Homo sapiens: one gene and its partner. The protein of the gene in region 2 interacts with the protein of the main gene of each other region in a pairwise test. Each region holds a gene or a part of one and is shown on either strand. Other genes may lie near its edges.

The links.
Region 1: the proteins of ATF1 (region 2) and NFIL3 interact in binary tests that used the Homo sapiens proteins (3 or more experiments, as listed by UniProt).

Annotation. Positions count from the first base shown.
Region 1 is NC_000009.12:91,408,541-91,413,865, forward strand, and holds the end of NFIL3 (nuclear factor interleukin-3-regulated protein), read right to left. Parts: intron 2,641-5,325; exon of another isoform or gene 2,463-2,640; intron 2,367-2,462; 5' UTR 2,195-2,366; coding exon 806-2,194; 3' UTR 505-805; downstream 1-504.
Region 2 is NC_000012.12:50,767,100-50,774,136, reverse strand, and holds part of ATF1 (cyclic AMP-dependent transcription factor ATF-1), read right to left. Parts: exon of another isoform or gene 6,984-7,037; intron 689-6,983; exon of another isoform or gene 1-688.

The DNA of each region.
Region 1 (5,325 bases), on a different chromosome or scaffold from region 2:
CTTTGAAATTTTAGAAACTAAACAGTGTTTAGCTTAGTTCCCTAGATTGTTATACTCTAGAACTGTTAAGACTTATAATAACATAAAAATGCCTCATCCTCAGTCTTTATCTGCTCTTTTAAAACAGACTTTAATAAAATGCATCAGTGACTCAACTATCCACATCCATGTGTCATACTTAAAGGGTAGATAACTAAGAAGAGGCTGTTACCAAACAACTTGTATTTTTATACTTAAGAAAATTATAGAGAAAACATAATCTTACAGAAAAATATATAATATAAAGTAATTTAGTGAATTAGTCTCAAATGCAAGAAAATTCACTGTTATTTTTCTTTCTTTAGAAGCCTGGAAAAACAAATTATTTGCTGAACTTAGCACTTCAGTTTTCTCTTATTCAGGGGAGAAAACTCTCTCATATAAAATGTAAAATATCTTAATATTTATTTTTATAACTTAAATTGACTTTTCTTCTCCATCAAATCAAATGCAATGGAGCAGGAGTTCTGTGTTTGTCACCAATCCTTTATTGAAACTGGTAACTTACACACTTTATAATAGAACAACAAAAATAATGTTCAATATATACAGCCTTCGCATGGACTATCTGACTATACACAGGCAGAGTGATAACACAATCTAATCTTCATCATAATCTGTGCACAAAAAGACACCAAACAGACAACATGTGCACATCACAGTGAAATGACATCACAGGTCCAGTGAAAATTCAGCATAATACAAAATGGACTGCTCTATTGCAAATGACATCTTTCTAAATGCCCAGCTCTTACTCAGTAGTAATTTACCCAGAGTCTGAAGCAGAGATTGGTTGTGTGGCTATAAGTCTCTTGAGTGAGACAACCTCTGCAGATAAGTTTGCTATCCCCTGCTTCAAATACAAGTTCTCTGGGTCAGAAACTTTGTAGCCACTGTCTTTCATTTCAACAACTCCAGTTTTGAAACTATTCTGAGTTTTGCCACTCAGTTCTTTTTGATGCCAGTGCTCCGATTTGAGAGACCAATCTTGAATGTTAGTCACTTGCACTGAGAAAGGAGTAAGAGAAGAATGTACCATACTTGGGGCACTATGCTTTTCGAGTTCGAAATGTCTTTTAGATGTCATGTCAATAGGTGAGGAAAGTTTTTGCGTGGCCTCAAATTCATTATCAAAGGCTTCTACTTTGATCTGCATGGCTTTGGCTTTGATCCGGAGCTTGTGTGGCAAGGCAGAGGAATTCACTTCTGGAACTTTAACCACAGTTGCATGCACATGCTTGAGTTCAACTGGAGAATGGATGGGGCCCTTGGGGACCTGTTGCTCGTCTTCTCCATCAGATGACTTTCCTACCACACCATCATCAGTTTCCGACGTTCTCGGGGAGTTGCTGGAGGATCGGTTGACTTGCAGTAGTGGGGGAGAGTGTGAGTACCCAGAGAAAGAATTCCCCATATAGTTTTGATAGATGGACGCTGTGTAAGAGCCTCGGTCATCTCTTGGCTCCCTTGTGTAGCTCTCTAATTCCATCGGCTCTTGCTTGATAATCTGGAACTTGTTTTCAGGACTTCTGCAGCTTCCCTGCACAGAGCTCTCCTGCGTGTGTTCTACTGAGGACACTTCTGAAACATCGGACAGCGAGCTTTGTGGAGAGTGTTTAATGACAGAAATACAACTACTTGACACCATCGAGGGTTCGTGCTCGTCCACAAATGAACTCACATTGGATTTGGAAGTCTGGTAATCTTGAAAGTACACAGCTGTAGAATTACTGAGTTTCTGAATCTCTTGAGCATATGCTGTGGAGCTAATTAAACCAAACTTTAATTTTAGTGAAAGCAGCTCAGCTTTTAAAGTGGCGTTTTCTTCTCCCAGTGCAATTAGTTTGTTCTCTAAAACCAGGTCATTCAGTCGACGCTTCTCACGAGATCTTTTGGCAGCTTCATTATTTTTCCGCCTTTTTTCCCAATACATAGCATCTTTCTTTTCATCAGGAATGAATTCCCGTTTCCTCCGACATGCAGAAGATTTGTTCTTCCCCACACTTCCTTCACTGAGAAGCAGCTCCTCACCTGTTGTGGAGTCTTCTGACACTTCCGTTAAAGCAGAATTAAGGACCATCATCTTGTCCACATTGCTACTGGCATCAAGAGACGCCTGCTCCTTTTTGACGGTCTGCATTTTTCTCAGCTGCATCAGAAACAACCTTACCCTATCTATGTGTGTAGGAGAACAAATTAATTTCCCCGTATTCTCAAGCTCTTTAAAAACTCTGGTTTAAAATCCATCAATATTCTTCCTTTTGTTCTACCGTCTGGGATAAATCCGTCAGGCTCCTTATTGAATGAAGTTGGGCCTCCTTCGTTATCTGCAATACATGAATAAAAAAAAAACCAGTTATTCACTGGATAAATGTTTATTACAAATTATGTACAAGGAAATATGCTAAGCATTTAGGGCATACAAGCACAGATGAGGCATGGCCACAGTTCTTTCTTTCAACAAGTTAGCATTTTCAAAAAGGAAATAAGTTCCCAAATACCTAAACTATAAAGCTGTAAAGGACAAATCCCTAATGAGGCCTATCAGTAAGAGAATATGTGATCCAGGAAAGTGAGGGAAAAATAAAATAACCTCTGCCCAGAGAGAAGTAGAGGAAGGCTGTATTTAATGAGGCGAAATGGAGAAATAGTTGGGTGTGGGCAATTACAGGAAGGAAATGACAGATAGCCTCTGGTTGGTAAGTTTCTAAACAGTACATGCATACCGTGGTGCTTCTAAATAATGTTACCTAATATTTACATCACTGCCAAGCAGATATGCTCACCTCTTAAAAGGGACTTTACCAAGTAAACTTTAACGTGAGTAAAAAAAAAGTTCTGCACTCCTATATGGAATAAAATACAAATGGAGACAAACTTCTTCTACAAAAACTAAAGTAAAAGCCACATTAACAACGGAGCTGTTGGTTTTAATCTACACCTTAACGTGGACATAAACCTGCCCATCACATCCTTGACTGCCTGGTAGGCTTATATCCCAGCAAATTCCACCAGGTGACTCACTGCAACTAAATGAAAAGGATTCTTCTCCATCAAGCCATCTCTTTACAAGCATCTGAGTTTAAGAGATTAGAATTTTTTTTTCTGATTCCTTTGAATTTGTTCTATCAAACATTCAAGATTGAAGTATCCAAAATGCTTTTTGTGATCTTGAAAATTCTGTCAAAATAGATTTCAGGTTTCAGTTACATAGTAGCTTTGAACTAAAAAACAGTTACTAGGCGGGGCACGGTGGCTCACACTTGTAATCCCAGCACTTTGGTAGGCCGAAGCGGGCAGATCACAAGGTCAGGAGATCGAGACCATCCTGGCCAACATGGTGAAACCCCATCTCTACTAAAAAATACAAAAATTAGCTGGGTGTGGTGGTGTGTGCCTGTAATCCCAGCTACTCGGGAGGCTGAGGCAGGAGAATTGCTTGAACCTGGGAGGCAGAGATTGCAGTGAGCTGAGATCACGCCACTGCACTCCAGCCTGGTGACAGAGCAAGACTCTGTCAAAAAAAAAAAAAAAAAAAAAAAAACCCCACACAAAACAAAAAAACACTTACTATTCAAAGGGGGTTTTTAAAAGTATAGTGCATTCTTGAAATGAAATTCTTTTAAACCAAGAGAATATAGTTACAGAAAAAAATTTCTTTCATTTATATGAATTAGTTTCAAGTAAAATATAACAACTCAAAAATAGAATCATTCATTAGTTTCCTCTTCCATTGATGAAATACTTACACTACAAATTTGGCCTGACAGTTGCCTTAGCTCGAGATAATAAAATCCATGTTATGTTCCAGTAGCAATCATTGCATGGGGGCTTTTGAATTTAACTGTGTTTCTAGACACTGATTCTCTGCCTAATGTTCCAGTCAGTAATATTTTTCGTTAAATAGACATGGTACAACAGTTCCATCAGCACGATCTGCACACAGTGGCACTTTATTCTACCCTACTAAAAAGATGTAATGAGCCAGGTGTGGTGGCTCATGCCTGTAATCCCAGCACTTTGGGAGGCCGAGGTGGGCGGATCACCTGAGGTCAGGAGTTCGAGACCAGCCTGGCTAACATGGTGAAACCCCGTCTCTACTAAAAATACAAAAATTAGTCGGGTGTGGTGACAGGCGCCTGTAATCCCAGCTACTCGGGAGGCTGAGGCAGGAGAATCGCTTGAACCCAGGAACCCAGGAGGCGGAGGTTGCAGTGAGCCAAGATCGCGCCATTGCACTCCAGCCTGGGGGACAAGAGCGAGACTTCGTCTCAAAAAAAAAAAAAAAAAAAGATGTAATGTTCTTACATGATGCCACTATCTCCTTCTTACGCCTAGTTTCATAATGACTAATAAAATGAAGTTTACTTTTATCAATTGGAAAAGCCTGCCAGCTTCTTTTGTCTTTTCCAGGGAATGAAAGGAATTATGTAATAATTTCAGGATCATAAAGAATAATGTTTCATGCCAGGTTTTTGCCCATTAAACTGAGCCAACATAGTTAAGGGAACAGCTAGTCGTAACTCAGAGAAATTTGTGATTATTAATATCAAGTTTCTGTTTGTTTTTTGGTAATGAAACTTTAATAGGAAATGAAGGCAAGGAGTGTGTCACAGTCAGCAGTGATGTTGCAGAGAAGGAATCTTCCTATTTATCATTTAAACAATATTATTTCCTTTTTTTTTTTTGATAAGAGTCTCGCTCTGCTGCCCAGGCTAGAGTGCAGTGGTGCAATCTTGGTGCACTGCAGCCTCTGCTTCCCAGGCTCAAGCGACTCTCCTGCCTCAGCCTCCTGAGTAGCTGGGGTTACAGTTACGCGCCACCACGCCCAGCTAATTTTTTTGTATTTTTAGTAGAGACGGGATTTTACCATGTTGGTCAGGCTGGTCTTGAACTCCTGATCTCAGGTGATTTGCCTGCCTCGGACTCCCAAAGTGCTGGGATTACAGGCATGAGCCACCACGCCCGGCCAACAATACTATTTCCTCTAATTTGCATTTAGGTTTTGTCCTCTAATATGAAAACCCAGTTTCCTTTACATATTGAATGGATTCTTTCCTCTGTTGAAGTCTGCACTCTGCCATTCAGCAAAGTCCTCCTGCTAAAGTAAAATGAGTGGAGAAGTAAAGAGGAAGATATCCCAGTTAAAGAAGACAATTGCACTGACCTTTCCCAAGGCACCTTTCAAATCTCCACTATACTCTTGGCCACTACTTTTTTCCACTTTTAGTTTTTAAACATCATATGATCCCTTGCAGACTATTATTCTGGTTATTTTCTCCACCT
Region 2 (7,037 bases):
TTGCTTGAACCCAGGAAGCAAAGGTTGCAGTGAGCTGAGATAGTGCCAATGCACTCCAGCCTGGGCAACAAGAGTGAAACTCCATCTCCAAAAAAAGAAAAAAGAAAAGAAAACTTGCAAAGAAAGAAACATTATATGTTAGGCAATAAACTAAGAGCTTTTTAAGCTCAACATTACTGATCATTAGAGAAATGTAAATCAAAACCGCAATGAGATACCATCTCACGTCAGTCAAATGGCGATTACCGGCCTGGCATGGTGACTCACACCTGTAATCCTAGCGCTTTGGGAGATCGAGGCGGGCAGATCACTTGAGGTCAGGAGCTTGAGACCAGCCTGGCCAATATGGCAAAACCCCATTTCTACTAAAAATACAAAAATTAGCCAGGCGTGGTGGTGGGCACCTGTAGTCCCAGCTACTTGGAAGGCTGAGGCAGGAGAATCGCCTGAACCCAGGAGGCGGAAACGATGCAGTGAACAGAAATTGCACCACTGCACTCCAACGTGGGCAAGAGAGCAAGACTCAGTCTCAAGAAAAAAAAAAATAGCTGGCATCGTGGGTGACTGTGGTCCCAGCTACTTGGGAGGCTGCCCAGGAGGCGGAGGTTGTAGTGAGCCAAGATTGTGCCACTGCACTCTAACCTGGGCAATAGAATGAGACTTTGTCTCGAAAAAAAAAAAAAAAAAAAAAAGAATGGCAATTAAAAAGTCAACAGTTGGCGAGGTTTGGAGAATAAGGAATGCTTTTACGTTGTTGGTGGGAGTGTAAATTAGTTCAACCATTGTGGAAGACAGTGCAGCAATTTCTCAAAGACCTACAGGTAGAAATACCATTTGACCCAGCAATACCATTATTGGTATATACCCAAAGGAATATAAATCATTCTATTATAAAGATACATGCCCACATATGTTCACTGCAGCACTATTCACAATAGCAAAGACATGCAATCAACCCATATGCCCATCAATGAGAGACTGGATAAAGAACATGTACATATATATCATGGAATACTATGCAGCCATAAAAAGGAAAGAGATAATGTCCTCTGCAGGGTCATGGATGGAGCTGGAAGCTGTTATCCTCAGCAAACTAACAAAGGAACAGAACATCAAACACTGCATGTTCTCACTTATAAGTAGGAGCTGAATGGTGAGAACACGGGGACACATGGTGGGAGAACAACACACACTGGGGCCTGTGGAGGAGGGTGCGGTGGGGGAAGGGAGAGCATCAGGAAGAACAGCTAATGGATGCTGCGCTTAATACCTAGGTGATGGGTTGTTCTGTGCAGCAAACCATCATGGCACATGTTTACCTATGCAGTAAACCTGCACATCCTGTGCATGTACCCTGGAACTTAAAAGTTGAAGGGAAAAAAAAAGGCTAGGCGCACTCCAGCCTGGGTAACAAAGTGAGACACCCGTCTCTTAAAATAAAAGAGAGAGAGAGAGAGAGAAAAATATATTTAGACAGTTACCTCACCCCAGCTTTAGAAATGGGACAACTTGGCCAGGCACAGTGGGTCACACCTGTAATCCCAGAACTTTGGGAGGCCGAGGTGGGTGGATCACTTGAGGTCAGGAGTTCGAGACCAACCTGACCAACATGGTGAAACTCGGTCTCTACTAAAACTACAAAATTAGCCAGGGGTGGTGGCACATGCCTATAATCCCAGCTACTTGGGAGGCTGAGGAAGGAGAATCGCTTAAATCCAGGAGGCGTAGGTTGCGGTGAGCCGAGACCATGCCATTGCACTCCAGCCTGGGCAACAACAGTGAAACTCCATCTCAAAAAAGAAAAAAAAAAAAAAAAAAGGAATGGAGCAATTCAGGCACAACAAAACTTGCAAAAATATAGCCAAGTGCGATGGCTCATTCCTGTAATCCCAGCACTTTGGGAGACACTTTGTACCCTTAAGCGATAGGATCGCTTGAGCCCAGGAGTTTGAGACCAATCTGAGCAACACAGTGAGACGCTATTGTTACAGGACAGGGTCCCAATCCAGACCCCAACAGAGGGTTCTTGGATCTCGCACAAGAAATAATGGGTCAAGTCCACAGTGTGAAGTAAAAGCAAGTTTATTAAGAAAGTAAAGGAATAAAAGAACGGCTACTCCATAGACAGAGCAGCCCCGAGGGCTGCTGGTTGTCCATTTTTATGGTTATTTGTCGATGATATGCTAAACAAGGGGTGGATTTTTCATGCCTCCCCTTTTTAAACCATACAGGGTAACTTCCTGACTTTGCCATGGCATTTGTGAACTGTCATGGCGCTGGTGGGAGCACAGCAGTGACGACGACCAGAGGTCACTCTCGTGGCCATTTTGGTTTTGGTGGGTTTTGGCCGGCTCCTTTACTGCAACTGTTTTATCATCAAGGTCTTTATGACCTGTATTTTGTGCTGACCTCCTATCTCATCCCGTGACTTAGAATGCCTTAATCATCTGGGAATGCAGGCCAGTAGGTTTTAGCCTCATTTTACCCAGCCTGTTTAAGATGGAGTTGCTCTGGTTCATACGCCTCTGACATTTCCCCCCGTCTAAGAGAACCCTTAATCCTAAGGGTTGCAGAGGGACGAAGATCCATCTTCTATAACTTCTTCAGGCTAAATAGGGCAATGATATTCCTGCCTGCCTATGAGGGTCTCTTGCATTCAGGGTAAAAAGGAGCTCAGTCAGAAAGCATCAGTATGGTAAGGTTCATTCATAACTCAAGTTTCAACAAAAGGTGGTATCTGGAAAATTAGTAAGAAAACGTTCAGTAAGCTTGTCCTGTATTCCTACACAAAAAGTATAACAGCAATATATTCCACAAGAGTAAAGCAAAATAGGCTGGGTACAGTGGCTCACACCTGTAATCCAGCACTTTGGGAGGCCGAGGCAGGTGGATTACCTGAGGTCAGGAGTTCGAGGCCAGCCTGGCCAACATGGTGAAACCCTATCTCTACTAAAAATATAAAAGTCAGCTGGGCGTTGTGATGTGTGCCTGTAATTCTAGCTACTTGGGAGGCTGAGGCAGGAGAATCACTTGAACCCAGGAGGCGGAGGCTGCAGTGAGCCAAGATGGTGTCACTGCAGTCCAGCCTGGGCGACAGAACAAGACTCTGTCTCAAAAAGAAAGAAAGAAAAAAAAAAGAGTAAAGCAAAATAAGTAAAGTTATTCCAAATAAACTAAATTAGAAGACTTTTCATGAACCAGGCAACCACTGGAACTAAGCTGATATCGGGTTGTTAGCTGATTGTAATGTGCCCAGAATCAGAATACTGATCCAGATTTTTAAATTACCCATCCCTCTTATTTCTTCTGAGCAACAATTAGAGATTACTGGTTGGTTTACAAGAATACGCAGGGTTAGCCTAAATTGCAGAAACAAACTTAAAAACAATTAATGAGACCAGAATTTAATAACAAGTGTACCATAGTTTTTGAAACATAGTATTTCTCTCTCCAGTTTCCCATTTTTACTAAAGACAAATTATGGTAAGACTGACTTGCTTTATTATACTTGGCCTGATTGTTTGTATAAAGTGCAGCAAGAATAATAATTTTTCACATAGGCTTTTTAATTGGCTTTGATGGAACTCTGTTTCATAAGGAATCTCAGATAAGACTTTTTTAAAAGCCAAGCCCTGACATGGGTTTGTACCCTTAAATACCTATAACTTGGGTAAATTTCTCTCCTTTTGAGGTCCCAAGATAACTTGGGGCTCCTGGACAGGTGAGAAAGTGACATTCTTTACTTACCATAGGTCAGAAACCCTGTACAGGCACTGTGTAGGCAAGGTATGAGGCCAGTTCCCCAAAGGGCTTTTATTGGCTCTACAAGTCAAGTTTGATTCCTTAAAGAAAAGCACACCATTTCAGTCAAAGCCTTGGTAAAATAACCACTTTCTCCAATTGTATTCTGTTACAAAAGAAAACAGATTCTTATTGCACTTATGCAAATAATTACATTGCCATAAGTTAAGAATACTCACAACTAGTTTCCAAATTCTGGAGAAATCTGATATAGAGAAACAAATATGTTCCAAATTTCGTTCACAGCAGTATACTTTACTCAATTGCTATGAACTGTAAATAGCTCAAATGAAAAGTTTCCTTGACTCTGAAAAACAAAACAAAGGATCAGCAACATTTTAATCAAAGATTACTTCAGTTTTCTATTGGTTCAGTTGATTCAATTAACTCATGTTTCATTTGATATTCATGAACATTCTAGCTCTTCATGAGTTCTGAAAGTTGTTTCCTCTATTCTAATGTTACAATTTCCAAAGTTATTAGAAACCTGCATTTAAGAACACCTGCTAGAGTTCTATAGCTGATTATAAATCATCTTCTAAACAGGATTAAAACAAGACAACAATTGTCTGTGGATGATAAAAAGTTTTAGGAGAGCCACTATTAAAGCCAGAAATGATAAGGAAATTTGGTTACTTCTGTGGCACACAATATTTTGCATAACAATTATAATTATTAATAACATACACTAAATCATATTAGAATTATAGGAGTTTCCCATAACTTTGGAACATATACCAATAATACAGTTATGTAAATATAATCCAAAGAAAGCAAAACACCATTTGACATTTGATAATGCTTCCTGTATGAATTTTTTTTTTTTTTGAGATGGAGTCTCGCTCTGTCACCCAGGCTGGATAGAGTGCAGTGGTGCAATCTCAGATCACTGCAACCTCCCCCTCCCAGGTTCAAGCGCTTCTCCTGCCTCAGCCTCGAGTAGCTGTGACTACAGGTGTGCGCCACCATGCCCGGCTAACTTTTGTATTTTTTGATAGAGATGGGGTTTCACCATGTTGGCCAGACTGGTCTCAAACTCCTAACCTCAGGTGATCCATCTGCCTCGACCTCCCTAAGTGCTGGGATTACAGGTTTGAGCCACTGTGCCCGGCCAACTTAGAATAATTATTTAACTCTTTAGCCAAAAAACCCCACATTTCCATGCCTTCTTATAATCTTTTACCAAAAGTACATTCTATTTTCCTTACTACACACCTTACATGTAAAACTGTCTCTTCAATAGTCTCAGTTACATGTTCCAATTTTAACTTTTAGCGACTTTTACTTTTGGTGAAAACCCTGGTTAGTAAGCAATTTTAATTATGTACTAGGTGTGGAGCCTAGCCTAGGACACACCAGGCAGAAGTGCAGATAAGAGCTGACTCTCCAGCACAGCTTAGGGGCGTGGCTAACTCCACATGTCCCCAGGCCTTATCTAGAATCTAATGGCTTTAAGGTAGGGTAAATTGAACAATTTTTAAAAGTCAAAGAAACAGTTTATGACCTCAAATCATTTAACAAACTTAATATCTGACCTGCATAATTAAGATTAACATTTTTATCAATTTTAAAGATGTGTTTATTTCCTAAAGATTACTAAAGTTACATGAACTAAAAGGCATTAGTTATTTTGCTTTCAAAATATTTGATTTAAATGTTTATTTTTGTTTAAGCTGATTAATCAGAGCTCTTTTATATAAATATTACACACGACACCTATATAGCTACACAGAAAGACAGATGATGATGATAACAGTGGTTGTAAGATTTTTCATTTGCCAGTTTTTAAGTTTCTTAATTGGATTACCGGCTTCAGGGTGGAGCCCTTGGAAGAACAGGGCCACGAAAGGGGTCTCTGGTGCCTCTTGTTTTTCCCAAGGAGTCCAGGCTGTTAGAGCTTGAATATCCACTTTTAATTAAACTTATTTTAACCATAGCACTCTTTAATAAAGTCCTTTTAGAAGTTTTTATGCCAAACGGCTGGTATTTCTGGCTTTTGAATTTTATCAAAGGTAACCTCCCAGGTGCTTAGAAAAAGGAAAATATAAGACAGTTCACAGAGGAGAAGAGAATAGACAAAGTCATGCAGATATTAAACCAGAAACGACTTACTTCCTAGGTGGGTAATTGAACCTGGACTGTTGCCACGGAAGTGCAAAAGCTGGCTGGGTGCGGTGGCTCATGCCTGTAATCCCATCAGTTTAGGAGGCTGAGGCAGGTGGATCACCTGAGGTCAGGAGTTCGAGACCAGCCTGCCCAATATGATGAAACCCCATCTCTACTAAAAATACAAAAATTAGCTGGGCGTAGTGGCACACACCTGTAATCCCAGCTACTTGGGAAGATGACGCAGGCAAATCACTTGAACTCGGGAGGCGGAGGTTGCAGTGAGCTGAGATCGCACCACTGCACTCCAGCCTGGGCGACAGAGCAAGACTCCATCTCAAAAAAAAAAAAAAAGAAAGTGCAAAAGCTTAGCTACTGAGCTACAGCACAGGGCAGTCTCTGTTGACCTTCCCAGAAGGAGTCTAGAGTAGTTAATTTTGAGCTTATAAGGGCTTTTAACTATTTAATATTATTTTTAGAGCTAACTATGACATGAATCCTGAAATTCCTGTTCTCTGAAGGTGGGGACCAAAAGAAAGTACCACCACATGGTTAAAAGGTCAAGCTCCCAAGGACGTAAAACAAGGTGGAGACTTCATCCAGTCTTTTATTTGTTACAGGGACCTGCAGCCAAGTATCTTACTGACCAGCTTGCTGGGTCATCTTGAAAAGCGAGCTTACAGGTGTTCTTTTTTTTCTTTTTTTGAGATGGACATGGAGTCTCGCTCTGTTGCCAGGCTGGAGTGCAGTGGCACGATCTCGGCTCACTGCAACCTCCGCCTCCCGGGTTCAAGTGATTATCCTGCCTCAGCCTCCCAAGTAGCTGGGACTACAGGCGCACGCCACCACACCCAGCTAATTTTTTGTATTTTTAGTAGAGATAGGGTTTCACCATGTTGGCCACGGCTGGTCTCAAACTCCTGACCTCAGGGGATCCACCAGCCTCAGCCTCCCAAAGTGCTGGGATTACAGGCCTGAGCCACCGTGCCAGGCTGATTTTTTTTTTTTTAACCATTCACTTAACCATTTGTACAGTGAGAGAGAAGCCAGAAATCTGACTGGTAATACATTCTTACCCTTTTGCCAGCATCCCAGGCTTCTGGGTTCCCTTTCCCTTAGTGGTCCTAGTG